Linked DNA regions of Homo sapiens. The protein of the gene in region 1 interacts with the protein of each later gene in a pairwise test. Each region holds a gene or a part of one and is shown on either strand. Other genes may lie near its edges.

Evidence for each region.
Region 2: the proteins of FHL2 (region 1) and CCDC92 interact in binary tests that used the Homo sapiens proteins (3 or more experiments, as listed by UniProt).
Region 3: the proteins of FHL2 (region 1) and DEAF1 interact in binary tests that used the Homo sapiens proteins (3 or more experiments, as listed by UniProt).
Region 4: the proteins of FHL2 (region 1) and A1CF interact in binary tests that used the Homo sapiens proteins (3 or more experiments, as listed by UniProt).

The regions. Positions count from the first base shown.
Region 1 is NC_000002.12:105,389,035-105,396,061, forward strand, and holds part of FHL2 (four and a half LIM domains protein 2), read right to left. Parts: intron 1,194-7,027; exon of another isoform or gene 1,073-1,193; intron 1-1,072. UniProt on the Homo sapiens protein: May function as a molecular transmitter linking various signaling pathways to transcriptional regulation. Negatively regulates the transcriptional repressor E4F1 and may function in cell growth.
Region 2 is NC_000012.12:123,969,820-123,976,808, forward strand, and holds the start of CCDC92 (coiled-coil domain-containing protein 92), read right to left. Parts: upstream 3,013-6,989; 5' UTR 2,710-3,012; exon of another isoform or gene 1,921-2,709; intron 1,601-1,920; exon of another isoform or gene 1-1,600.
Region 3 is NC_000011.10:678,206-685,232, reverse strand, and holds part of DEAF1 (deformed epidermal autoregulatory factor 1 homolog), read left to right. Parts: intron 1-269; coding exon 270-335; intron 336-4,143; coding exon 4,144-4,270; intron 4,271-5,416; coding exon 5,417-5,545; intron 5,546-6,410; coding exon 6,411-6,539; intron 6,540-7,027. UniProt on the Homo sapiens protein: Transcription factor that binds to sequence with multiple copies of 5'-TTC[CG]G-3' present in its own promoter and that of the HNRPA2B1 gene. Down-regulates transcription of these genes.
Region 4 is NC_000010.11:50,812,613-50,819,639, reverse strand, and holds part of A1CF (APOBEC1 complementation factor), read left to right. Parts: intron 1-3,360; coding exon 3,361-3,634; intron 3,635-5,577; coding exon of another isoform or gene 5,578-5,601; coding exon 5,602-5,783; intron 5,784-7,027. UniProt on the Homo sapiens protein: Essential component of the apolipoprotein B mRNA editing enzyme complex which is responsible for the postranscriptional editing of a CAA codon for Gln to a UAA codon for stop in APOB mRNA.

The DNA.
Region 1 (7,027 bases):
AACTGTAAGCAAGGAAAAGATCATCTTTCAAGAATTCATTCTTGGATATTTCTGTGTTTACAGAATAATTCTCTTCCAAGAGCAATAAATATGCAGCTGGACACATGCGGCAAGATCCGTCCTTCTAAATCACTCTTCCTGGAGTTAAAGAAAACATTGTCTGGACATTCTTGTGATAACATCACAAGATGAGGCTCTTGAGCACTTGAATTATTATTCTGAAGCCCAACGTATAAATATCCTTTGTACCGCAGCCATCTCGAGTTGGAGCAGCCATGCTGGCACAAGATTCAATGCTTTCCTGTAATTGTTCAGTTATTGGCCTTGAAAGTTGCTGTCATTTATTTCATCACAATTGAGAGCTGTTTTTCCAACATATATGTTTTTCCAATAAAGGGTGTGATTTAGCTGTGGGACAAGAGGCTCACTGCCCATTCCATGCCCACAAACATAAGAATAATAATTTGGGAATTTGAAATAAGAACGATGAAAGGACAGAGAACTATAAATTGCGGAATTGTAAAAGCTGGAAACAAATCCCCAGATTATCTATGACAACTTCCTCATTCTATGGATGGAAAAACTGAAGCCCACGCATATTTATGAAAAAGAGGGTCCACTGAGCTTTCTCAAATAGCCGTCTGACTTACAGAAAATGAACTCCCAGTCTAACTTGAAAGGCCGTCTGTGTGGGTCAGGACAAGCACCAGCCCTGCTAGGGAAGGGAGACAGTCTACAGCCTCTGTTAATGTCTGCAGAGCTCCATTTATGTTGGCAGCTGGTGAAAGGGGTACACCTGTTTTCCTCTGAGGTAATAATCGTGATCACGGTGCTCATATACCTGATATGTGTTTTCCACTTCCTCTGATTCTACAGGACCAGGACAGAAAAAAACAAAAACAAAAAAAATCTGGCCAGGTGCGGTGGCTCACGCCTGTAATCCCAGCACTTTGGGAGGCTGAGGCGGGTGAAACACGAGGTCAGGAGATTGAGACCATCCTGGCTAACACGGTGAAACCCCATCTCTACTAAAAATACAAAAAAAAAATTATCCGGGTGTGGTGGCGGGCACCTGTAGTCCCAGCTACTTGGGAGGCTGGGGCAGGAGAATGGCGTGAACCAAGAGGTAGAGCTTGCAGTGAGCTGAGATCGTGCCACTGCACTCCAGCCTGGGCGACAAAGCGAGACTCCGTCTAAAAAAATAAAAAAATAAATCTAAGAGAATAAACTCTGAAAATAAGTAGGGCTCCACATTTGCTCAAAGTACGACTGAGGTTATGAATGTCATCATGGTGAATGTCATCATCAGTGATATGATGAATATCATTATCAGTGATACCAGCTCCCAGCAGGAACAGTAGCAGCTGCTATCTGCTCAGTGGGTCCACCTGGGAGGAGGCACTTGGCCCTGTGGTTCAGCTCCTAATTCTACAGAATTCTTTCTGAGAGTGGTGGATCCCTCTTCTACCTTGTTCCTCATCTTCTAAGAGGACACTAGAGTTCTACAAAGAGCAGAGAGCATTTCTACTCCAACCAACAGGGCAGAGCATAAAATGAGCAACTGCTGCTACCTAGGAGCACAGCAGGATGCACTGTGTGAAAGCAGGCCCCTGAAGGAGTTCCACACAGTTACATACTGCACAAGCCCTGAGCATCAGAATAAAAAGTCCATGAGCTAATAAGCAAGCTCAGAGCTTCCCTTCTATTACAACATGTTTAAAAGTATACCTATTGTCCTGTATTAGAAATCTCCTATAACTTGCATTTTTTTTTTTTTTTTGAGACAGAGTCTTGCTGTGTCACCCAGGCTGGAGTGCAGTGGCATGATCTCAGCTCACTGCAGCCTCCACCTCCCGGGTTTCAGTGATTCTCCTGCCTCAGCCTCCTGGGTTGCTGGGATTACGGGCACACGCCACCACACTCAGCTAATTTGTGTGTGTGTGTATGTGTGTGTGTGTATGTGTATTTTTTTTTTTTTAGTAGAGACGGAGTTTCACCATGTTGGCCAGACTGGTCTCAAACTCCTGACCTCAGGTGATCCGCCTGCCTTGGCCTCCTAAAGTGCTAGGATTACAGTCATGAGCCACTTGCATTTTTTACATCCCATAAATACCTGATTGCTCATTCATTCACTGAATAAACATTGGTTGAGCTGGAACTATGTGTCTAAAGTCATGAAAAGTGCAGAAGATACAAAGATGAATAAAATGCAGGCCCCTCCCCTCAAGGGACTTGTTATCTAGTGAGGAAAAGAGATATATACCAAACAGACTACCAAGCCCCTTACTCAGTGCGTGCTGGAGGTGCACAGGTATGATGGGCACGCAGAGGAGGAGCCCCTGAGAGAGCAGGCAGGCATCCCAGAGGAGATGCTATCTGTGCTAGGAACAGGTCAGCCAGGTGATATGGCAGGTCAGGTCAAGGGGTGGAGTAGGCAAAGCCAGAGACATGAGAGACAGAGTAGGGTAGGCAGAGAGCCCAGGAAGATGGAAGACCCAGTCAACAGCCAAGGCAATGAGGGCCTGGATGCCTTGTTCATGGACTTGGGTATGCCTCGCAGGCAGTGGAGAAACGGACAGCCCAGTGAAAGTTTACTGCATGGAAGCCTGCCTTTACTATGCAAGACAGGGGGCAATGACTCCTAAAAAATGTATCAGGGTATCAGAGCCCATTTCTGAATGATTTCTTCAAATAAAAGTAGGACATCTTGGTTCTACAAGGACTTATTAACCTAATTGTGTACAATCCATTTACTCTCTGTGAACTCCACATCCCTCCTGACAGGTTATCAATAATTCCTGCTCCTTAGCTGGTACACAGGAATGCTGAAAGCATCAGGCAACAGCCTGCAGGGAGATGCCCAAACATAAGGCGCAACCCCTCCTTTTTATTTCACTGAATCAAATTCCAAATCACAGTTTCCTGGAGTTCTTATTCCTCACCAAGCTAAATCATTCCATGATGTCATTACCCCTTCGGCCCTGAATAGGGTATTTGAAAAAGCTGGATCTTAGGGTACAGGCTTGACTCCAGGCCAAGGGAACTGCAATGGGTGAGGCAGGTGCCAGGTGCAGCTCGGAGGTCTGGGGATGGCCCAGGGAAGGCTTTGATCTCTGAGTCTCTCGCTAGCCCAGCTTTGACTCAGATGTAAGAATAGGTCGGGTACAGAGGCTCATGCCTGTAGTCCCAGTACTTTGGGAGACCGAGGCAGACATATCGTTTGAGCCCTGTAGTTCAAGACCAGCCTGGGCAACATGGAGAAACCCCATCTCTACAAAAAACACAAAAAATTTGCCGGGTGTGGTGGCATGCATTTGTAGTCCCTACTACTCAGGAGGCTGAGGTGGGAGGATCTTGAGCCCAGGAGGTCGAGGCTGCAGTGAGCCATGATAGCATCACTGCTCTCCAGCCTCAAGGAAACAGCCTCATGGTGACACAGACCATGTCTCCAAAGAAAAAAAAGAAAAAGAAATAAAAAGGATGTAAGAATAAAGGTTCAGAGGGCCAGGGAGCAACAATGCACTCTACTACTCACAATTCATACTAATTTTAAAAGTTCACAAGCTCATCAGTGTGATCTATTTTTAAATTTTCAGATTCAAAAACTGTAAAACAAAGTATGAGTGGGGAAAGTATCAAAGCTGGAGGAAAATAAAGGGAAAAGGAAACAGAAAGAGTAAAGAGAAGGGGAGAAGGGTGGTGACAGGACAAAAAAAGGAAGGAGGAGGGTAAATGAAATGAGGCAGAAGAGAGGCAAGGACCCTGCATGCCAGGAAGCTTTTTTTTTTTTTTTTTTTTTTTTCTTGAGACAGTGTCACTCTATCACCCAGGCTGGAGTGCACTGGCCCTATCTTGGCTCACTTCAGCCTCCACATCCTAGGTTCAAGCAATTCTCCTGTCTCAGCCTCCCAAGTAGCTGGTATTACAGGCGTGCATCACCGCACCCAGCTAATTTTTTTTTTTTTTTTAACCAGAAAGATTTCGATCAAAGGAGGGGCTGCCATGACAGACAGCCTCCCTTGGCTTGCTGGCTCAGGCCTTGGAGTTCCAGGAGCCTGGCAGATCCCTACAGGTAAAGCCTGAAGAGGTCAGATTAGCAAAAGAAGTCTATTTAAGCATCCTTTTCAATGCACCTTTTATTGACTACCTACTTTGATCTGACCCCAATGGGCCCATTTTCTCCTCCCCCTTTGAAACCCCAAGTGCTTCTCCCTATCAACCCTGCTGCAGGAGGCTCCTCTAACATAGCCATTTCCTAAGGAGAAATCTGTGAACGTCCCCAAGCCCTTCCTGCATGCAGCCCTTCAACACATGCAAAAGCAGCTTCGGTAAGTCAGTCCCTGTATCTTTAGATGTCACCGGGGATCCGCAAGGGATATTCAATTACTTATCAATAATCAACCAGAGCTTTCCAGAGACAATTAGGAAAACTGGTCTATGTGGGCTCTTTTAAAAAATACATTATAAAAGTGCAGTGTTTTCATGCAATTGCCCCGTCTTCTACCAACCGTAAGCATTGGGAAGGGTGCCCACTACCTGTCGCTGAGACCTCACCAGCAGGGAACACACACAGGACCAGGGGCTTTGTGAATACTTGTGGAATGGATGAACAAATGAATTGACGGGTGGATGAATACAAACATGTCAGAGTACAAACATACAGGCAAAAATCAAGCATGAAAAATTAGAAACATATTATGTGAACAATCCACTCTGCATAGCAAACCCAACATGTAATGTGGTTTGGCATATGACATCATGAGCTTCCATCGCTGCCCTCGTCCCTCCTTCCAGATAAGCTGCTGCTTCCGCAGCGGATATAACTCTTCTTATTGTGTTTGGACTCCAATCCCATGTGAACACACAGCTGCACAGTCCAGGATGCAGCCTGGCCAGGTCAAGAAGCAAAAAGCCAGCTGGGAGTCGTGCCCACTTTGGGAAGAACGCACAGATCCCCAACACGGGCTCCAGGTGTCAGCAGAAGGCCCTGATGTTCTACAGACATGTGATGCCTATAATCAAAGATCCTCCATTCAAAGGCACGGGACTCTCACACCTGGAAATGTGCTCAGAGAATACCCCGCACCATTTTATTTTCCTACGGATGGGAGTATCTACACACAAAAACCGCTCACCCCCAACACTCTTCATTTGTCTAGCTAAACGGGTTGTTTTAAACAGAAATTCTGATAAAACGGAGAGGGCCATCATGTCAAGGAAAGTTGCTGTTTTATAAACTAGAATAATGGATCAAGCCTTGGAGTCCCTAAAGAGAGAGGATCTCTTGAGCCCAAGAGTTCGAGGCTGCAGTGAGCTGTAGTGCTGCCACTATACTCCAGCCTGGACCACAGTGTAAGACCCGGTCTCTAAAAAAAAAAAAAAATTTATATCAGTTGGATATGGTGATGTGTGCCTACAGTCCTAGCTACCTGGGAGACTGAGGCAGGAGGACTGCTTGAGCCCAGGGGTTTGAGGCTTTAGTGAGCTATGATGGCACCTGTGAAAAGCTACTGCACTCCAGCCTGAGCAACAGAATGAGACCCTGGGAAAAAAAAAAGAAAAGAAGGAAAGAAAGAAAGAAAGAGAAAAAAGAAAGAAAGAAAAAAAGTATCTAGCATCCACTTGAAATCTATTTTTAAATTGTTGGATTTTAAACAATCTTAGTTTGTAAGGTATAAAATTGACTATGCTTACCACTGTATAATATATTTACAGATTAATTTAATAAGCCTTTACTAAATGCATGTACAGACAGGTGTCAGAGGTGTATTATAGTTTACATAAACTGGTAACTTCCAACTTAAAAAAAATAAATAAACATCTTCATCTCTGGTGGTTCTGCATGAGGCAATGTTTGAATAAGGTAAACTGCTGTCTTCTGAATTATCTTTTGAATATTGAATACTAAAAATAAAGGGAAAACAATAAATATCAAATTTCTGATCTGAAGTCCATGACTACAAGAGGAGTTACACTTGTTTTGATGTCGTTCAGCCTTTTGAACCCAGCCGACAAGAATGTGTTGAGTAACCACTGTTTTCCATGTGCTACGTGAGGCACTGGGAAGCTGAGATAAAACACACAGTCTATGAAGGAGTTCCAGTCTAGTTCTAGCTCCAAATAATTTAAATCACCTTTAAGATCCCATCTTGTCATTTAATCTCAAAACACATCAATTGCAGCCATGCAGGACAACCATAGCTGCACACGCTAGAATGGCGGGTGGCCTCGGGTCCGTCAATCACACCAGTGTGGGGACCAAGGGAGACTCCATCCTGCATGCTATGGCTCTACCATGCCTTCCCTGAGTGAGTTACGAACACTTCTACACCTACAAAACGAAAACCACCCACTCTTCTTCATGGCAGGGGTCTCCTCTCACCTCCCAAGTGCGGCTCACTGTTCACTCTCCCAGCTATCTGAGGTGCCTATGACCCCCACCCCCATGCTGGCCTTTCTCTTGGCATCCAGCAGCTTCCATGAATGACTGGCCACCTCCTTCTCACTGCAGTCCTGCCACTCTGTGGGGTTTCTCTGGCGCACTGCAACAGGACTCTGTCCCGAGAGGCTTGCACAGTTCCTTCTGCTTCCTTCATTGACTGCCTGCTTCTTAGTGACTCCAAAAGTTGTATTAACCCAAGCAGACAGGTCTATTTCCTTGTTGACTGACAAGCTCCATATTTACATACTGCAAGGACATTCTGGCATTAATTCTGTTCACCCATGAAAACAGGGCAGCTGCTTCTGCCACAGACATCCCACATCTCACTCAAGACCATATGACGGGAGGATCTTGAAGCCGCAGACAGAATCAGGCTAGTAAAGGCGTGGGCCACCGAAGGCTGAGGATGAGTGTGAAGTCTAAGTTCACACCAGGCAAGACACCACCCACGAGCACTGGGATGGACCTGGGAGACCAGACGCTGCTCCAGACCCCTCGTGACATCCCCATGCAGAGAGCATGTTTTACAGCAAGAGGAAAGCCAAGACTCCCAGGAGCAAAGTAGTGATCAAATCTTAAAAAAAG
Region 2 (6,989 bases), on another chromosome or scaffold:
AGGATGACTGGCACCATCCCATTTTTTAAAAACAGCTTTAAAAAAAGTCTTTTCTGCTTGCCTTCCTAGAAAAGGGTAATTTTCCTCTTGATTCAATGTTTATTGTAGAAAATAAAGTTAAAGAAAGAAATACAAATCATGTATAATTAAAAAGAGTCTTTTAAAACACATTGAATTCGAGAGTGCTTTATTCCCTGTAATGTGCCATACAAATGCAAAGCACGACTAAGAATCATCTTCGATAGCAGGTGGGTCTTTAATCTACTAAAAAATCTTCCTAGGGTTCATGTAGGTGTCTGCGGATGTTGCTACGTCCACAACTCTAGAAGCCAGCATAAGAAAACAAAAAACAAAAGCCACAGTGCTAAAAGGGAAGTACAGAAGTCCTCGAATATAGTTGCCATCGGAATACCCAGGAGTCCCTCTCAGAAAGACCCTCCTATACCTCTGTGATACCTCCTAATAGCCATTCACGCCAAGTGGGGAACCAGCTGATCCCAAAAGCCCCTAGGGAAGGAGCAGCCCCTTCTTTCCACCGCTAGTTCTCACCATAAACAACTTTTGCCTTCATATAGAAGTGAAATCTGTTTTTCTGTACTCAATAATTACTCAAAATAAATGAAATCCCTTGCTGCATGACAGACCTTCAAATATTTGAAGACAATTAGGACACAGCCACTTCCGTGCCCAAATCCTTCTGCAGGTTGAAACATCAAAGCTGAAGATGTGGAAACTGGTGTCATTAAGTTAGCACCTACCTAGCCGGGATGAAACTTCAATCTGACTCAAACATTTACTGCAACATTGGTGTGTGAAGATACAAAGTCACCTAGTCACTGCCCTTGAAGGACATGGAATTCAGTAAATTCAGTAGATATAATTAATCTTAGTTACCAAATGTGTGCCCACTATGTATTAGAAACTATTTATGGCTGACCTTGTTCCAGATAGAAGGAAAAAAGTTCCATGACTTTTCTTGCCAGAAATACGAGAAAATGCTTTTTTAACATAAGTATTTTTTAAAAGCATCAACATTTTATTAACGTTAGTATCGTTGCAAAGGCATCCTACCAATTAGGTAATTATGTTGAGATCAATTTATCCAAAGATAATTGGATAAGTTGAGATCAATTTATCCAATTTTGCAATTTATCCAACATGGCAGATGAAAGAGTTATAAACCCAAGATGAATGATTCGTTTTTTAAAGAGTTAATAAAAATATCTAATTTCAAAAAAACCCTATTTGTTAGACCGATGTATTTAAAATGTGTCACAGTAAAAATCTCACACAAATAATTGTCCTGTACTTTAGATCTTAAATGTACCTAAACTAAATTTACTGAGTAATTATAATACGCAGAGGAGTAACAAAACTATTTTAAGATTTTTCAGTGGTGTGTATGGATATGTACGCATACCCGTATATATAATCACGAGTTTTAAAGCCTTCTTCCAAGCATATTTCACATAAGATGAACAGTTAGCCAAAAGAATTACATACATTTCAAAACATCTTTGGAGGTAAAAGCCACTTTAAACGTTAGCATCTTTTTCCTTACAATGCAATAGCGAGAAAATGCATGGGAATTCTTGATGAGCAAAAAAAAAAAAAAAGAAAAGTCGTTTTATCAATACCAATGCTCTTTAAATAAATTTCAAACGTAAAAGTTTTAAAATGGCAATCCTAGTTTTAATACTCTTACAGGTTTCTGGAACTGCGTAATATGTTAAAGTATTACAGCGTGGTAGCTTGCATTTTGTTATAAAACCGACTACTGCAACCTAAGCTACAGAGCGCGGTTATATTTTCTCTCTGGCAGCCTAATTTTCCTTAGTGGACTAGATCGTACTGCTAAATACCAAAACTTGAAATGAAACAATACAGGTCAGCATGAAAACCTAAGTTAGAGAAACTCACTCGCCGTAGCAGACGGCAGCCCAGTAGCCAAGCCTGGAGCTCTGCTGCGTTTGTGCATTCTGCTCCGTTTCACGAATCACAGGCAAATCGTTACTCAGAGTAAACTAAAGCCGCATCAAAGCTTCAGGAAGGGGCTGGCAAGGTAGTGTACTTACGGAAAGGCTACCAGGACGGGAGGCGATACAACTTGTCAGGGAGGGTCTCTAAGGTTCCCCGGGTGGTAACAAGCATTTAAAAAGGCGATGTGGATTCAGACGGCCTCCTCCCCACAGCATCCCAGACAAAGCCGGGCTAGGCCCCGGGGCGCTCCTGGTGCACCTGCAATGCGGATCCCTCGCCCTGCGATCCCACCCCGGGGCAGACAGGAGCGCCCCGGGACCGGCCTCTCCTCCCCCTTGGCACTGGGGTGGGCGCGCGCCGCGGCCGGTCCGCACCCTGGACTGGAGCCCGGGCCGGGGAGCCCCCTCCCCAGAAAGGGCCGGCAGACCCCGCGGGGGCGGGCGCGGGGGTCGCCGAGCCTCAGGGACCCTCTTTCCCCGACTCCGCCGTCTCCCGAGTTGCCTTCGCCCGGGGCCACCCCTGCCCCTGGGGGAGCTAACGTGGCTCCCAAGCCCCGGAGGTGGGGCAGGAGGACCCCGTCCCCCGTCTCCCGGCGGGGAGGGTTTTTAAAGTCTTCGCCACGAACTCCCGTCCCTGCCCGGCCCCTCCGCCCCTGCCCGGCCCCTCCGCCCCCGCCGGCGCTGCCAGGTGAGCGGGGCCGGACTCGACACACCCCGGGCCCCGCCTCACCTGCGGGCGCCGCCGTCGCGTTCCTTCAGGCGGCTGCCCTCTTAGGCTCGGTCCTCCCGGCGGGCGGCGGTGGGGGCCCGTGGCCCATGGGCTGGGCGGGGCGCGGCGGGCGGGGCTGCCTGGGCTCGGGCGCTGCCCGGGCCGGGCCGCCGAGGGAGGTCAGTGGGCACCGCCCGCCCGGCGCATCTCGCCCGCTCCCACCCCAGCGCTAGCCGCGGTGCACCCTGGGAGCGGGGCCGGCGGCGAGGCCTGGCCGCGCTGACCCGGCGGGCTAGGCGCCGGCGCGGCGGCGGGCCTGTGTCTGCCGGGCTGGGCGGGGGCGGCGGGCCGATATTCACTTGGCGAGGCGGGGCTACGCCCCCTTCCGCCCGGCTGTGGCGGGGCAGGGGCGAAGGCCGAGGGGAAGGGAGGGTCGGGCCCGCGGGACGCAGGCGCACAGCTCAGGTGCGGCCGCACTGCGGTTGCCCTGGGTAACGCGGCCCGAGGGAGGGGGGGGCGCGGGGAGGAGCGAGGGAGGCGAGCGGGAGCGCGCGCGCCGGGCGCTGGGGTGGGGGATGGCCGGGCCCGACCGGGCCGGGGCTGGGGGGCGGGGGCGGAGGCGGGCGGTGGGGGCGCGGGCCGGGTGGCCGCGCATGCGTGCGGCCCCCGCTCCCCCGGGGCTTCCCCGGCCTCGTGCGTGCGCACGCGCGCTGTCCCCCGGAGGCGTCTGGGTGTGCGGAGCGCGCGCGCGCGCGGCTCGGAGGCGCACCTGTGAGGTGTCCCTGAGGAGAGGGAGGTGGGTGCGCGGCGCCCGCGGCCTGGGGCGCTGACTCCCCTCACTTGGAGTGAGTTCTCGGCGGCCGGGCTGCAGTCTTTCTTTCTTTCCCGGAGGGAGGCGGGGGCCGGGGGCCAGGGAGCGGGCTGGGGGTGGGAAGGAGGTGGAGTGGCTTAAAGAAAAGAAAAACAACCCATCCCGGAGGATGGGCCTCGGGATGGCGGGGAAGGTCAGAGCGGCTCCGCGCAGCCTGGCGGGTCCCGGGCTGAGAAGCCGCCCCTCGGGCCTCGGGCGGTCGGCCGCGGGCCCGCAGTGCGGGGGAGCGGGGCCGGGGGGCGCAGATGGCGGCCGGTGCGAGCGAGGGCTGGGCAGCGGGCAGGGCGAGGCCGGGCGAGGCCCCTCGGGAGCCGGACTCCCGAGCCAGGCTCCATTGTTGTTGGAGCCGAGGGAAGGGGGAGCGCTGCCGCCCTCGTCGCCCGTGGAGCCGCGTCTTGGAGCCCTTCCAGGCGGGTCCCGGGAGAGGCGGTCATGGCCGCGCCAGGGGACCGGGGAGCCGGGCGGCTGCGGAGGAGCCGGCTGCATGGGGTGCTGTGTGTTTTTCAGGGCGCCCTGCGTCCGGCAGAGGAGGCGAGCATCCCGCTCAGGTGATGAGGAACCCCTCGCGCACCCAGCGCAGAAGGCTGCTGCCGCCGGACGCCTCCATTGTTTGACCACAACAAGGGCCGGATTCTCACCCAGGTAAACCGGCTGCCGGCGCTGTCCACTTCCCTCTGACTCCCGCCTCCGCAGGCGTTCTCACCCCTTCCAGGACTCGACTGCAGTTTTCTCACTGTCCCCGGCTTCTCATGAACTCCGTATACCCCCTCCCAGACATTTTCCCGTCCGGATCCATCTCTCCGCCACATCACCTCTCATTTCCCCCAGAACTCAGCTCCTTTGTGAAACCTTTCTTGCCGAACTCTAACAACTAAATCTCCCCGGGAGCCTGCTCCGAACTGAACTGTTCTGGTTGCTAGATTGCTTACGGGCTGTCTTATTGCAACAAAGGAGACCAGATACCGAAAAAAGATTTCTGAGCTATTGCCTTCTTCAAGGAACGTTTTCTGATATTTACAGTTTATTGTTTTCACAGGCTGGAACGGTTTTTAGGCATTTTGGCTTCTTATTTAGAGAGGGCTCCTATTTCCTTCATAGACGCATAGTTTTTTAGAGCAGGAAATTGACCTTGTTCAACCCGCAGGTTAATTAAAAATTTAAAAATTAATTCTAAATTAGCAGAGTAGTACATTTTCTTTGTAAAAACAGCATATCACAGAGATGGCATTTTGTCTTTGACTATCAACCTCTGTCTTCAGGGATGCCGACTATTATGTGTGTGGTGTTTATCCTTCTAGATCTTTTGGAGTACTTTTACGTGTGTGCACTTAACATCATTTTTGACTGCTTTAACAAGGACTGTTGCACCGTAACTTTCAATGTTAGCATGTAATGCTTCAAGTCATTTTTTAACAACTGCTGCACCATGTTCCATAGTTTCAGTATATCATGGTTTAGCCATTTCCCAAATTGATAGCAGTTTAAGTTTTAACTTTAAAACAGCTTTTTTGCTGGTGGTGGTTCTCTGATGAGATGAAATTTCGGTGATAGGAGCACAGATCTACGCTAATTATCGAGATTCGGCATTTATGATGAAGTTCTCTTTTGGTTAAGAAATTGATATGTGGAAGCAGCCACCCCTCCCCTATGGTAGTTCTGACTCTAGCAGTTAGAAGTTGTGTGACCTTGGGGAGGACATTGAATCACACCAAACCTCGGTTTTCTTTTCTGTAAATGGCCTGCTCTGTCTGCTCCATAGAGTTCAGTGATACAGTGCGTATGTGTTGTGGAATGTAAAGTAGTATATATAAAGGTTGGTTTTATTAGCCTTTGTGATCCAAAAATTATTTGCAATATCATTTATATTTTTTGACCAGATGTGTGTGTATCATATCACAGAGCACTACAGATAGTCAACTTTGAATGCTTTTTAATTTGTGACTTTTTAAATTAATTTTTATCAAGTACTGACAATACATTAGTCTTCTTAACAATATTTTGCAAAGCATTTTTTCCTAGGGCTTTCTTTTCTTCCTCTTCATTAAAAAAAAAAAAAAAGAGAGAGAGATAGGGTCTCTTTCTGTTGCCGTGGCTGGAGTGTAGTGGCATGATTCTAGTTCACTGCAGCCTGGGACTCCTGGGCTCAAGTGATCCTTGTGCCTCAGCCTCCCCAGTAGTTAGGAATGACTACAACCATGTGCCACCACACCTGGCTGATTTATTTTATTTTTGTAATGACAGGCTCTTACTATCTTGCCCCAACTGGTCTCAAACTCCTGGCCTAAAGCAGTCCTCCCAAAGTGTTGGGATTACAGGTGTGAGCCACTGTGCCCAGCCCCTAGTGGTTTTACATACCTTAAAAAATAAGGCATATAAATTAGTTGACTGTGAATAAACATATTAGCAAACTGAACACTAGACAATACTCGCACTATAATATTTAAGCTTATTTCCTTAGAGTTGTAAGTTGTACATGTATTTTTCTGTGGCAGCAGCAGATTCAGATTAGCTTTTATGTCCTTCAGGGAAAAGGGATTGTTACTAAATTTGCAGGCTGCATCAGAGTTTTAATATTGAGATTTAATATTTTAATCATTTGAATAATGATTGAATGATGTGATGGGTAACATTTTAAGATGTATGAGATACGATTAGGGGCTTTTTATGTATTTTTCTTTCTTTCAGATATATATGAGTGCCTGTAGTGTGGCCAGCAAAATCAACTTATTTTGTTCTCTTGAAGCTTATGATTTGTGAGGGGGATTGGAATTTAAACACAATCACAACTACACGTATGATCACAAACTGGTATCTGCTGTGAAAGTTAAGAAGCACCTGCTATGAGGGAGTATAAAAAAGGGGAGACCAAATTTTAGAGTGGAGAGAAGGGGCCTAGGAAAGACTTTTCTGTATAAATAAGATTTAAGCTGAGATTTGAAGAGTGCGTAGGTGTTAGTGTGGAGGAAAGTGGGGGATAATTTTCCAGGCAGAGGAACAGCATGTGGGAAGGCCTCAAAGTGGGGAAAAAGCTTTGCCCATTCCAGGAACTGAAAGAATGAATGTGGATAGACTATGGAGGTGAAGGGGAAGAGTGGCTAGGCCAGGGGCCAGATCAAGTAGGGTCATGTAGGGCAGGTTAAAGTGGTTGTATTTTATCCCGAGTGAAATGGGAAACCATGATATGGGTTGGGATTTACGAAGAGGAGTGACATAATCAGATTTGTATCTTTAAACAGCCACTCTAGTCGTTGCATGCAAGATGTGGGGGCGTGTTGGGGGTGGAGAGTAGAAGTGGGGAGACCAGGTTGGCCATCTCAGAGGGCTGCCTGGAAGAGACGTGAGCTTTCCCTTGGAATTCACATTGACCTCACGTTACCAGCTACACTAAGGTCAAATCAATGTTTGATTAAAAAAAAAAAAGATCCTGGCC
Region 3 (7,027 bases), on another chromosome or scaffold:
CAAACCTATAATCCCAGCTTCTTGGGAGGCCGAGGCATGAGAATTGCTTGCGCCGGGGAGGCAGAGGTTGCACTGAGCCGAGAACGTGCCACTGCACTCCAGCCTGGGCAACCCAACAAGACTCTGTCTCAAAAAAAAAAAAAAAAAAAAGAATTTTTATATTTATGAATGGTAGGTAAGTGGTAAAAGTGGTTGAAATCTTCTATTATTGAATGATTGACATTTAGGGGCTGACTTGCTAATGCATGGTGGTTCTTTTCACATCTCAGGATGGGATCTTAAACCCTCACGCTGCCTCTTGCACCTGTGCTGCCTGCTGCGACGACATGACCTTAGTAAGTGGCCAGCGTGTCTGGAACAGGATGACTTGGTGGGGCTGGGGGCGGCTGAGTGGGTCCCACAGCCCTTGGCCTCTCGGCTGTTTCCCTCCTGCCCTCTGCCTTGGAGAGAGACACTGTCCTCACTTCTCCTGGGTTGCTCTGTTCCCTCCTCCCTGATACGTCACAGTGAATCCTGATGTCTCGATGGGGAACACGTGGTTGGCCCCCAAGATGTTGCTCAAAGAACATTTGTGGAAACCTTAAATAATGAAAAGCGGTTATAATGTCACCGCCTTAACTCTAAAACTAAACATACACGCTTTTCCTTGTATGCATGCCATTTTATATTCCTCATTTTGTAACATGTCAGAAAAATGCTACTGTAAACTTATTCATGTGTAGAGCTTTTAACGCCTTTTTGACGTATTTCCTTATTCTAAATTCTTAACTGCTTCACAAAGACCCAAAATAATTTTTCTTTCTTTTTTTTTTTCTGAGACGAAGTCTCATTCTGTCGCCCACACTGGGGTGCAGTGGCGCGGTCTCGGCTCACTGCAACCTCCGCCTCCTGGATTCAAGCACTTCTCCTGCCTCAGCTTCCCGCGTAGCTGGGATTACAGGCATGTGCCACAATGCCCAGCTAATTTTTGTATTTTTAGTAGAGATGGGGTTTTGCCATGTTGGTCAGGCTGGTCTCAAACTCCTGACCACATGTGATCCGCCCGCCTCAGCCTCCCAAAGTGTTGAGATTACAGGCGTGAGCCACTGCACCTCAAAAAAAAAAAAAAAGAGCATGGAGAGACCTACCGTGTTCTTGGGGTGAAACACTAAACATCCTAGAATTGTGTAGTTGATATATAGATTTCATGTGATTCTAGTGGAAAAAACAATTTTGTGAACGTAAAATAATTTTGAAGTTGATTGGGAAAAGCCAGTCGGTGAGACTCTTAGAGACGCTGCAGGAGTAAAGGAGCCGGGAGGAGACGTCGGTCCCATTGGCAGTTGAGCCTGCAGGTAGATCATTTGCAGGGGCTCCAACACTGAAGTACTTAGATGTCAGTCTAGGAAATCATGTACAGGGTTTGTACGTGGAAGATACTAAAGAAAATGCTGAAGAGAGAGACCAGGGAAGATTGAAATACGTCAAAAGACGTCCTGCGCCCGTGGATTAGAAGACTCAGTAAAGATGCGACTTTTTCCCAAGTTGATTCGTAGGTTTAACACAATGACTATCAAAATCCCAGCAGGATTCTTTTTAGATGCAGACAAGCTGATTCTAAAATTTGCATAGAAAGGTAAAGGAAATAAAAAAGCCAAAACAGTTTTGAAACAAAAAAGCCAAAACAGTTTTGAAATAAAAGTTTAAAATGGGTGGAATCACATTGCGGGGTCTTAAGACTTACGGGCTCGTGACAGTAATCAAGATAGTGTGGCACTGGCAGAGGGAGAGACCCCACGATCTGGGTCAGACTAGAGTGTCATAGTAGACTCCAGCAAATGGCCTTGGAGTGACAGGACGTTCATCAGCAGAGACAAAGGATGACCTAAACTTCACACTTGGTACAAAAATGAATTCAAAATGGGTCATCGATCTAAAGTGAAAGGTGAAACTATAACATTTTTAGGAGAAAACACATTGGAAAATCTTCCTGACCTGGAGTTAGAACTAGGATTTCTTGGATTGGACTTCATCAAATTTTAGAACTTTTGGCTTCCGCTTGGGGAGTGGTGGTGTGATGAGCTCAGTGGACCAACTCTCCAGAGAAATAACTAGTGAAAATTGTGAAAAAATAACCCCTTAAGGTCTCCAGAAATTGTCCTAGGGGAGTACAGCAAATAAACATCCAAGAAAATGTAGTAAGTCTTGGAAAGGGCAGTGAGGATTGTGACGTTTGAGCTACGACCAGCTCCTTCCCTCCCTTTCTGCCCCCAGCTCCCTATGGTGGAGGCTCCATTGTGGGTGGTTGTGACCAAGAAAACGGTTCCCACTCCTTGCAGTTCCCGGTCAAGGGATATGGTATCTCACTGGGAGGGGCAGGCCACCAGCATTTCTCAACCCCTTCAGCTCTAAGTTGCAGTAAATTCCTGGGAAGTGTGACTGAAAATCTCTTCAGTCATCCCCACTCAGAGGGCAGAGGCTTTACCCAGGCATGGGAGGCCAAGCATACGGAGCCCCAATTTCCATCAACCCACATTGCCCATAGGGTGGGGTGTCCATGCAGTGAGAGGCTGCTGCCCCCCACACAGAACCCGGCTAATGCAACAGAATTCCCTCTGATAGACTCAGGCACTGTTCCTGCCTCTAGGTCTATAGTAGGGGCTCAGACATTCAGCCCAAAAGAGAGAGAGGCCGTAAGAACAGAGAGCTCCAAAGCCCCTCCCAAAGGAACTGACTTGATTTGAAACAGTATGGGGATGTTCAAGCCTAAAAGTGCCCTGGAAAAGAATGGACATTTTGATGGTAAGCAGTTAAGAGGAGGCCAGCAGTTCCATTAGAGCAAGAAACTAAACTGTAGGTCAGCAGGTTTACCAGAGAGGCGAGGAAAGCCACAGCGAAGAACCCATCTGGGAAACCGACCTTCAAGATCGAACCTCTCAGTAAAGAAGCCCTAATTTAATTGGCTCAGACAGTGGAGCAGTGTGTGCCCCAGGGCATTGTTGAAAGTAATGGAGCAGGCAGCTGGCAGTTAGTTGATTCTGACACTTGACTACACCAACAGCTTAACAGAGATCAGGAAGAGCGACAGCCAAAACTCCCACCACCAAAGGTGATTGCACCCCACCCAGGGCCGAGCCCTCAGAGGAGCAGCAGCCGAGGCCGCCCCAGGAGAACAGGCTCAGTAAGATAGTCCAGCTCCGTACCTGAGTAATAAACAAGCTGACAGCAGCAAGGATCCCAGAGAAAGGAGAACTGCTTTCCACTGTTGCTACAATGTATCACCTGCGGTGTCTGATTCTTAACAAAAGATGATAAGACATGCAAGGAGCCTTGGACCATACACAGGAAGAAAGCAGGCAACAGAAATTGCCTGGAGAGGTCCGGATGTTGGGGTTAACAGGAAAAAGCTTTAAAATGGCTATCCTCAGTATGTTCAGAGGACTGAAGGAAACCACAGCTAGAGATTGCATGGAAGGTCTGAAGACACTGTCTCCTCACTGGAGAATGTCAATGAAGAGATATAAATTATTTAAAAAAAAAAGTCGGCCGGGCGTGGTGGCTCACGCCTGTAATCCTAGCACTTTGGGAGGCCGAGGTGGGCAGATCACGAGGTCAGGAGAACGAGACCATCCTGGCTACCATGGTGAAACCCCGTCTCTACTAAAAATACAAAACACTAGCCAGGCTTGGTGGCGGGCGCCTGTAGTCCCAGCTACTCGGGAGGTTGAGGCAGGAGAATGGCATGAACCCGGGAGGCAGAGCTTGCAGTGAGCCCAGATTGTGCCACTGCACTCCAGCCTGGGCAACAGAGCGAGACTCTGTCTCAAAAAAAAAAAAAAAAAGAAAGAAAGAAAATTAGCCGGGTGTGGTGACACATGCCTGTAATCCCAGCTACTCAGGAGACTAACGCAGAATCACTTGAACCTGGGAGGCGGAGGTTGCAGTAAGCCAAGATGGCGCCACTGCACTCCAGCGTGGGCAGCTAGAGTGAAACTCCGTCTCAAAAAAGAAAAAGAGGTGGGATCTTTAGGGGCGCTTACCATCTTAATGTGGTCTCACCATGTGACTCACACACCCCGCGGTGCCCCCACTTAAGGAGGAGTTGCAAGCGCAGCATAGCTTTTGCACACATGAAGGTGGTGGCCTCTCTCCTTTCTCCCCCAGAGTGGCCCAGTCAGGCTTTTTGTGCCTTACAAAAGGCGCAAGAAGGAGAATGAACTGCCCACAACTCCCGTGAAGAAGGACTCCCCCAAGAACATCACATTGCTTCCAGCCACCGCGGCTACCACCTGTGAGTTTGAGAAAACACAGCTCTAGTTTACTGAGGGGACCTGAGTGCATTGCCTTCTCTCGTCACCACTCCCACGGCCACTGCGGGATTCTCACTTCTAAAGCACATTGCGTGGCCAGAGGGATTCCAACGCCATCACACTCCTTTGCAGTGCGTCCCCCGGGTGGGAAGGGGTGTCCCAGTGCCCAGCTCGGTCTTGCTTCCCTGGGACCCGGACACTGTTGGCCTTGTCCTGGGCTGTTTCCTAGTATGAGTGAGCATGGCTGAGTGCCCAGCACACGCTCAGGGGACGTTTCCTGACAAGGGCGTCCTTGGTGAGGGATTCTCAGTGCGCTGGACGAGGGCTGCGGAGAGCTCTGTGGGTCTTTCTCTGTGGCCGGGCTGGAGGGCGGCGTCAGGATCCCGGCTCGCTGCAGCCTCGGCCTCCCAGGCTCAGGCACTGCTCTCACCTCAGCCTCCCAAGTAGCTGGGACCACAGGCACGTGCCACCATGCCCAGCTAATGTTTTTATTTTTTTGTACAGACAGGATTTAAATGGGGAGAGGTAGCAATAGGAGAAAATGTCTTTGTAATAGGCTTTTGTTAACTAAGTCTGGGTTTTTGCATTTATAGAGTAAGGTCTTTCTAAAACACCCTGTCAGCTCCTTCCTGAGGCCCTGGGTGGTGGGTGCAGGAAGAGTCCCACAGCAGCAGAGTCTCAAGATCTGTCGCCAGGATTTTTTTTTGAGCTGGAGAGGCAGCCTTGCTGTGGGACACAGGGCAGCCTTGCTGTGGGACACGGCTGCTTTTTACCTTCAGCTTGGATTAAAGATTTTTTCTTAATTCGAACCACGAAGTACTTAAAAATCACTGAAAGTTTTATTTTATGTTTGTTTTCTGGCTGGGCAGCACATTTCCATGGTTCACAGTTTAAACAGCGAACAATTGGTAGTGGCAAGTTGCCATCCTGGCCATCCTGGTTTTCTCCTGTGAGGTCTTCTCCAAGGTCTGGGATTTCCCCCGTGTCCTTCACATGGGAGGGTACAGTTACCACTGCCCGCCCTTCAGCCCAGGCCCCCACAAGGATTGGCGCCCGTGGGTGGCACGGGACCTGTGTGCCGTGGGCGCCACTGCCTGGCCGCGTGAAATGTGCTTCTGCCTTTCCAGTCACCGTGACCCCCTCGGGACAGATCACGACCTCGGGGGCACTGACCTTTGACCGAGCGTCCACGGTAGAGGCCACTGCTGTCATATCAGAGAGTCCGGCCCAGGGCGACGTCTTCGCAGGGGCCACAGGTGAGCTGCTCCAGTGCCTGCCTGACGCGTCCTCAGCATATCCCTGTCTGTGACATCACATCCCCGACGCCACATTGGGCTGCATAGGCTGCTGGGTGCCTCGAGAGGGGCCTTGAACCAGGCGTTTGTTGGTGGGGACAGCGTGTGAGCCACGTCAGGTGGGCGGTGCAGTGTGGATGGGGTTGGCGTGTGGCAGTGGGTTACTTGTGACAGATGCCAGAACTGGCAAAGCTGAAAATACTCTCTGTCTGCCGGCTCCTGCTTTTGACTGCAGTTGTGCAACAGAAATGCAGCCTAGCTGGTTGTGTGCTGGAGAATATTCTAGAAGCCACACTGAGGAAAATAGAGTTAGAACTGATTTTTTTTTTTTTTTGAGGTGGAGTCTCGCTCCATCCCCCAGGCTGGAGGGCAGTGGCATGATCTCGGCTCATTGCAAGCTCCGCCTCCCGGGTTCACACCGTTCTCCTGCCTCAGCCTCCCAAGTAGCTGGGACTACAGCGCCTGCCACCATGCCCGGCTAATTTTTTTTTGGTATTTTTAGTAGAGACAGCGTTTCACCATGTTAGCCAGGATGGTCTCTATCTCCTGACCTCGTGATGCGCCCATCTTGGCCTCCCAAAGTGCTGGGATTACAGGCGTGAGCCACCGCGCCCGGCCTGATTTTTATAATCTATTTTATTTCACCTGATATAGCCCCAATCCTATTATGTCAACGATTCAGGATCACCACATTTCAGGGGCTCAGTAGCCACGTGTGGCCATAAGCTACTATGTGTACTGAATGGCGCAGCCATACAGCGTGATATTTAGAGTCTGCTGTGCGGACAACCATCCCGAGCCTCCCTGTCCTTTTTCTCCCCAACAGTCCAAGAGGCCAGCGTGCAGCCCCCATGCAGGGCCAGCCACCCTGAGCCTCACTACCCCGGCTATCAGGACAGCTGCCAGATCGCACCGTTTCCAGAAGCTGCGTTGCCAACGTCACATCCCAAAATAGGTAGGTTTGAAAGAATTCACACATGTACAGGTTATTGTCCTCAGAATTGCTTCCAATGAAAGAATTCCTAAGTGAAATGGGATTCATTTTGGTTTGGTTTGTTGTTTTTGTTGATGCATTAGATCAGTGGCTGGTAAAGTGTGGCCCACTGCCTATGTTTGTAAATAAAGTTTTACTGACACACAGCCACGTCCATTCATGTGTGTGCTGTGGAAGTTGCTTTTGGTACAGCAGCAGGGCACGCCCCTAGAAACCAGTTGGCCTGTGAAGCCTGAAGTTCTTTCTGGTGAGTTTGCTGTTGTCCTCTTGAGGGTAGACACTCCCCAGTGGCAGGTCTTGGTCTCTCCAGAGCTGGCATAGACATTCGGTATCTGGTGAAAGAAAGAAAAACCAAGGCCTAAATGTGGCCTAAATCTTTAAAATGACGATACACTGTAAATGCATTCTAACTTTGATTTTTCGTTTAACTGCACTTCTATTTTTTTGAG
Region 4 (7,027 bases), on another chromosome or scaffold:
GTTACCTATCGGATCTGGCATCGGTCAGGGTCCCAAAAGAAAACAAATAGCAAAGGAATTAATTACAAAAGTGCGAGTGGGGACTAGGGAAATCAAAAAAGAGTGTCAGAATTTGGGGCTCACAGCATTCTGGAGTCAAAGGTACAAGGGGCTGGAGAATTAATAGAAATCCTGAAAGGGGAGAGAATTGTGTAGAGCAGATCTCTTTGCAAGAAGTTGCTGGGTGCAGTGGCTCGCACCTGTAATCTCAGCACTTTGGGAGGCTGAGGTAGAAGGATTGCTTGAGCCCAGGAGTGCAAGACCAGCCTGGACAAGATGGCAAGACCTCATCTCTACAAAAAATTAGCCGAGCATGGTAGCATGGACTACTACAGTAGTCCCAGCTACTCCGGGGGCTGAGGTGGGAGGATCTCTTGATCCCAGGAGGCTGAGGCTGCAGTGATCTATGATTGTGCCTTTGCACTCCAGCCTGGGCAACAGAGTGAGACCCCACCATTAAGGAAAGAAAGAAAAGAGAAAAGAAAGAAGCAGTGATTTTGGTCAAAGGACACAGTCAGCCCAAGGTGACCTCTCAAAGACGGGTCCAGCAGAATAAATGCCCCGAATTCACTGTTGTCTCTTCTCCAACCTCCTACCAGTGTTCCCCATTGGCTAAATGCAATCACAATCTAGAAGGCTAAAGAGGACCCCATGTAGAACAGCTTCCCAGAGCAGAGAGCAGGCTGGAGCTGGTAGGTGGTGAATTCCATAGGCAGTGGATCCAGATGGCAAAGGGAGGATCTCTTAGCCTAGGCCCTTCAGACACTGTGGAGCCTCTTGCATATTAGCTCCTCAGGGGCCCACTCAAACTCAAAAAGTTTGAATACTGGAGGGTGGGGTGGAGAAAGTATTCACTCTGAAATACAAAAAAGAAAACTGCAAAGAAAAACTAATGCATAAATACATGTCTATAAAGAAAAGCATTATTTCATCTTCATTGATGATCACATTTAGTATCATAAAAGTGTTATTACTTGGAAAACAATTTGTAAGTTAGATTTTCTCTATATGGAAACATTCCTGAGTATACATGATGATTGCTGGGAAGGAACAGCCATCACAAATTAAATGCCAAAAATTACGTTGGAATAATTACAATTGAAACATATTCAAATTCCCAATTTTTGCAGCTAGATATTTTTAGAGTAATTATTTACACATATTATTTAGTTAAATATATATTTAATATTATATTTGACTATAATGTGGTATGGAAAAATCAAAAGTAAGTTTTCCTAGGAACTATGAAGGTTTTTGAGCATATATAGAGATATTTATATTTAATTTGTTAGATGAAGTGAGATCTTGAAATTTTTTCTACGATAATTATCACATTTACAATTTAGGAAAATTAGCCTAGTAAGAACTGACTTTTTAATACAGGTGAGAGAAACATGTCATAGAAACTAGTTATAAAGCTATTATAGTCAACCAAATGGGACAAAATAAAGTCTTGAACTTAGGTAGGAATGGAATGTAGGAGACAGCCATATGCAGAACAGTAAGGGATAAATTCAAAGGACGCAGGAACTGATTGGAGATGGGGTGAAAAAGAAGGACAAGTCATTATAAGCTTCCAATATGGTAGGTTGTTATGAAAGTCAGGAAGGGAAGCCTATTCAGAGAGAAAAATGATGAATTGAGCTTCAGAATGATTATTCATTTATTCTTTTTGTAAGTCTATGAAGTGAAAGAAATTTTACTAAGCTTGGGCTATACAGATTAATAAGATATTGTCCTAGCTCTGGAAATATCTAAACCAAATAACTAAAATACAATATTGAATTTAAAATGCTTTTGGATGGGACAAAGGAAGGCAGAACAAAATTTGTTACAAGATATCTGAATTTGCCGCAAAGAATCATTCCATGCAAAACATCTCTTGATATGGAAGTGCCTATAAGCAGAGACCTATTTGGGTCTCTCATCTTCCTCAAGACTGGACTGAAGATATAAAGAATCTTATACCCAAGTTCCTCCCCTATTTTCAGTATGCCAGGTCTACTTTTTCTAATTACATCAACATCAATATAAGATTGTTGAATATCAGCTGGATTCTGTCTGTCTCTCAGAGTATTCCATCTAACTTATTTGACACTGGCTCCTGCTACTAAAAAGTAAGGTAAATACATAATACTGGGGACAAATTGACCAAGAGGCTGAACAAAATGGTCAGGATGACCATGAAGCACAAGCTTTGTCCAGCAGACTTCAATAATCCAGGAACCACTGAGTCACTGTTGAAATCAGAGGGTAAGGGTGCACACTCAGCTGCTGTGAATGGGAATTTCTGTAGAAACACTTTACATAAAAGTGTTCTTTATATAAAACAGAGGATCTTCACATTCTTATTCAAAAACAAAGCCACAAATGCTTTCAGACAATACTTTGTTCCTTTGATAATAAATACATCAATCTATCAAGAATTTCTTGAGAGCCATCATTGTTTATTGTGTAGGCAAGCAATACATAGAAGTTAGTAGCACACGTAGATCTACATACATCCATTATCTTTGACATCTGGAGCTGTTTGCAGTCTCAGAATTTGTGTCAGAATTCTTAAGGACAGGTTTTAAGCAGTGCATGATCTGAGAACCTCAATACTACTCTCACTCCCAACTACTCCTGACCCCTGTCATCCCTGTTTATTAGCTCCCAACTGTTCAGCAGATCAAAAGGTGGCTTCACAAGGAAGAACCTGTGGCAGGCAATGCAACAGCCTCCCAGATTCCTCTTCCTTTGGTAGAGCCACAGTATGTCTCTCTTCTCCAGTGAAAACTTACTTGTGTGGCTGCTCTAAGGAGCAAGACAGTTAGCGGGCTATCAGCTGGAAGGGCCTGATTTGGCTGCCCATGCTAAATGCTAATAATTGATAAGATTTCTTTATTGGTTTCCTTTCACCTTCATCTTATTGTGCAAGGTAATGGAGATTTTATACCATCCATAACAAACCTAAATTGTCTTGTAGTTATATAATTATATAAATATGTAATTTAAAACACATATATGACCTAATAAAAATATTACATAACTTTCTGTCTCAGTGACTGTAACCAGATTGTAAATTTATAATGAATATGTCAATGGACACTGGCCAATATGTCACTGTCAAACCTGTTGGCATCTTATGCAACTTACCAACAAAATGGCTCAGAAAAAGTTCAACTGGCATACAAAACAAACCTATAAAATGACAAGATACAATCAATAAACCTACAGCAAATAGTCTAACACTTAGAAGGAGTCATGTTATTAGGGCTCAGCCACACTTGGTTATCTTCATATCATCTCGCGTTGATATTTCTTTGCTCTCTACAACAGGTGCTGGATGGTTCCCCCATTGAAGTCACCCTAGCAAAACCAGTGGACAAGGACAGTTATGTTAGGTATACCCGAGGCACAGGTGGAAGGGGCACCATGCTGCAAGGAGAGTATACCTACTCTTTGGGCCAAGTTTATGATCCCACCACAACCTACCTTGGAGCTCCTGTCTTCTATGCCCCCCAGACCTATGCAGCAATTCCCAGTCTTCATTTCCCAGCCACCAAAGGACATCTCAGCAACAGAGCCATTATCCGAGCCCCTTCTGTTAGAGGTAACACCAGTCAGATCTTGCTTTAGAGTAATCCCAAGATTTCAAATGACTCAAATTGCAGTAGCCTTAGATACATTGGATGGGTCCACTTGGAGAAAAGCACTGAAAAATTGTTTATTAAAAATCAACTATTATATCAATAGTTTTCCTTTAATAGGAATCTTTTTCACATTACAACTGGTTATTGAAAAAACGTCATCAGAACATTGTGCAAATGAGCCTAGTGCACAGATTCAAACTTTGCATGGGCCCATAAAATTTGCACAAACTAAAACCTAGTTCTATAATTGTTAGCTTCTTCTATATCACTTGTCCACCACTGTGTAGTCATCTGTGGCTCATTACAACACTTCTGGAATAGACTAGTATAGTCCAGTGGAAACCAATTACCTCAAATAGCAAAACCCTTTCAAGGCATGTGTGTATTTGATGGTGACTCAGTGGCATTGTCTTAATATGTAAATCACAAATTATTATAAATATAATCTAACAGACATATGAGATGTTCTCATCTGACCTCCTCCAGGAAATATGTTATACTTTCTTAGAAGCCAAATAATTAAGGACATTACTATATTTCTTTAATACATGGAGAACTGAACAACAAATAGAAAAAAAACCCTCAATCAGACTGCTAATAAAACAATAAATATTTCACATTTGAATCCTGTAAGAATTCTAAATGTTTGAGCAGTTTTCCAAGCTCCATTTCTTCAAGAAAGCTAGAAGATAAAGAAAGCCTTTATTCTATTTCCAAGAAACTAGCTTGTCCCTGTCTTTTTGGCTCCTTCAGATGAGTTTTTCTAGGATGTGGCTAATGCCAACTGAATCCCAGTTCTATCCTCCAAATACGACATGAATCTGGGCAATTCGATAAACTGTGCATTTAAGTCTATTCTTGGGTTTGACTTAGAAGCAAAAAGGCACATCTAGATTACTGTGGAAACAATTATCTTACTATGTTTTACTACTTTTCAGTATAACTAAATTGATCATATTAGGAGCTCTAGTCTTCAACAGCCTTAAAAGTTTCATACTCATAATTACTTGCCCCAAAATTGTAATGCAAATGAAATAATCAAGATTTCCTTTAAGGTAACTTGTCTATGTGATAATAAATTATATCATTGCAACATTATGCATTTAGAATATAAAATCACCTCATTAACCAATCCATACATTAAATACAAATTGTCAACCAGTTATGATGTCGAAAAAAAACAAACTCCACTATAAGGGAAAAAATGCCTATCTTATAACAAGAAAGGAATCAATGAATGATATTCATGGATGAAGGGTAATCAATTTAATTTTTTATCTCTATGCCACCAATATAAAATCAAAGTAGTAACATGGCAAAACAAAAATCAAAAGGAATCTATGCATGAAACTCAATGGAAATTTAAGCCTCACATTGACCGAACATCAGAGAGCATGGTGAACCTAAAAGCATGCTTTCTAAATGTTTGTTTTACAATAAGTCATTGGAAGTGGGATAATTAGGGAAGCCAGAATTTATTTCTGATATACTGATCAGTGACAGTCTCTATGCAAGACTGATTTCAAAATAAGTGGTCGCATTATGTTGGAATGTTCTAATAAATACATTCCCAGTCTTTATTAGTCTGTATAAAATATCAAGGTTACCTAAAGACAAAAATTGCAAATTTTCTATCCCAAAATTTTTAAGTTGTTTGTGTACTTATCAATAGTATTGTATTTATCAATGGCATTGTTTTCTTCTGAAGGTAGTTTTTCAAAAAAGAGAGACACCTATGTTAAACCTTACCTTATGTTGAGTTTCATTACATTAGAATCCTAGAGTCTCCCACCCATCTTCAGGGCAATAATCAACGTGAATTGGGCTAACTTTTCCATTACAGTAAGATTCAGGGTGATTTTCTGGTGGTTTGATTCAGTTTAATGCCTTCTTACGTTCCTAGAAATTTACATGAATGTACCTGTAGGGGCTGCGGGAGTGAGAGGACTGGGCGGCCGTGGCTATTTGGCATACACAGGCCTGGGTCGAGGATACCAGGTCAAAGGAGACAAAAGAGAAGACAAACTCTATGACATTTTACCTGGGATGGAGCTCACCCCAATGAATCCTGTCACATTAAAACCCCAAGGAATTAAACTCGCTCCCCAGGTAGGTAATGTTATTCCAGAAATAGTTTCTTTAAGTTGTGCCAATGAGCATCATTCACTTTTATCAAATGATTTGACTTGATCCCTACTCAAGCTATGGGTTTTTTTCTTTTAATATATAAAGCATCCAATGAATGTCACAGTCTTTGAAGGAATGCTGGGCATCTGGTGCCATTATTCTATTATAGGTCCTTTCTCTTTTTTAAAAAATCATAAAGTCTAACACCTTGAACAATATTCCACTGAAATGCAAAGAATCTGAGAGCTATTAAGAATTATCAACCCATACCCGAAATGAGGCAAAGACCCCATCTCAGAATAAATGCCTATTGTATGTGAGCCAGGTTGGCTGGCAAATGAAGAGTATTATGGCAGTGCCCTGAATAGACCATTTAGGACATCTTTTCTTGGAAATACTGTATCTAAGAGAAAACTCCACCATGATATCTGGGTGAATTATTAACTATGAGATGTCATCAGTCATACCAAATTAACTCTTCCTCCATAGTTATATTTTGGCAGTGGCATTACAGAGAGTTTTTACTGTGTTCATTTAACAGTTCTAAGTTTCCACACTTCAACATTAACCTGTGGTTTTTATTATTGGAAAATTAAAAGCTATAAAAGTTTCAATATGGAAACTGACTCCCGGGGTTAAAAATAAAACAAAACAGAGTCTATGCTAACCCTGAGACTGTTCCCTGTGGGAGTGTGATAGGTGCTGATCTCTCTGAAATACATTTTGGCTGAATAATCAGAGTTACAGTTTGTGTATCTTGAAGGAAACTTCCCTATTCCCATGACAAAGGTGGGCTTATAGCCTCACATTTATGGAAGTAGCCCTTATAATTTCAATCCAGAAGAAAACTGGTTTTCTAAAAGCTCATCTTGGGTAATTTTTTAATGGGATTTCTGGCTTTCTTTTATGCACAAATTAGCTTATCTAAGGTTTCTGCTAGCCCCACCCAGGGAATTTTAAAAAAAATGCCTATCAGACTGCTAAACAGCAATCATTTGTTCACATAAGATTTAGTAAACTTCTCTTATGCACCATGTAGTGCGCTAGGTGCTGGAGATGTAGAAGTGAATATAACAAAATCCTTATCATGAAAAATTAGATGGCAATCCAGTGGGAAAAAACTGACACGTAAACATATAATGAAATCTGGAAGTGATATGATGAAGTTTGTTCAGAAAATATAAAAGCCACTCATCCAGTTTCTCTTAGGTTAAAACCCAAAACAA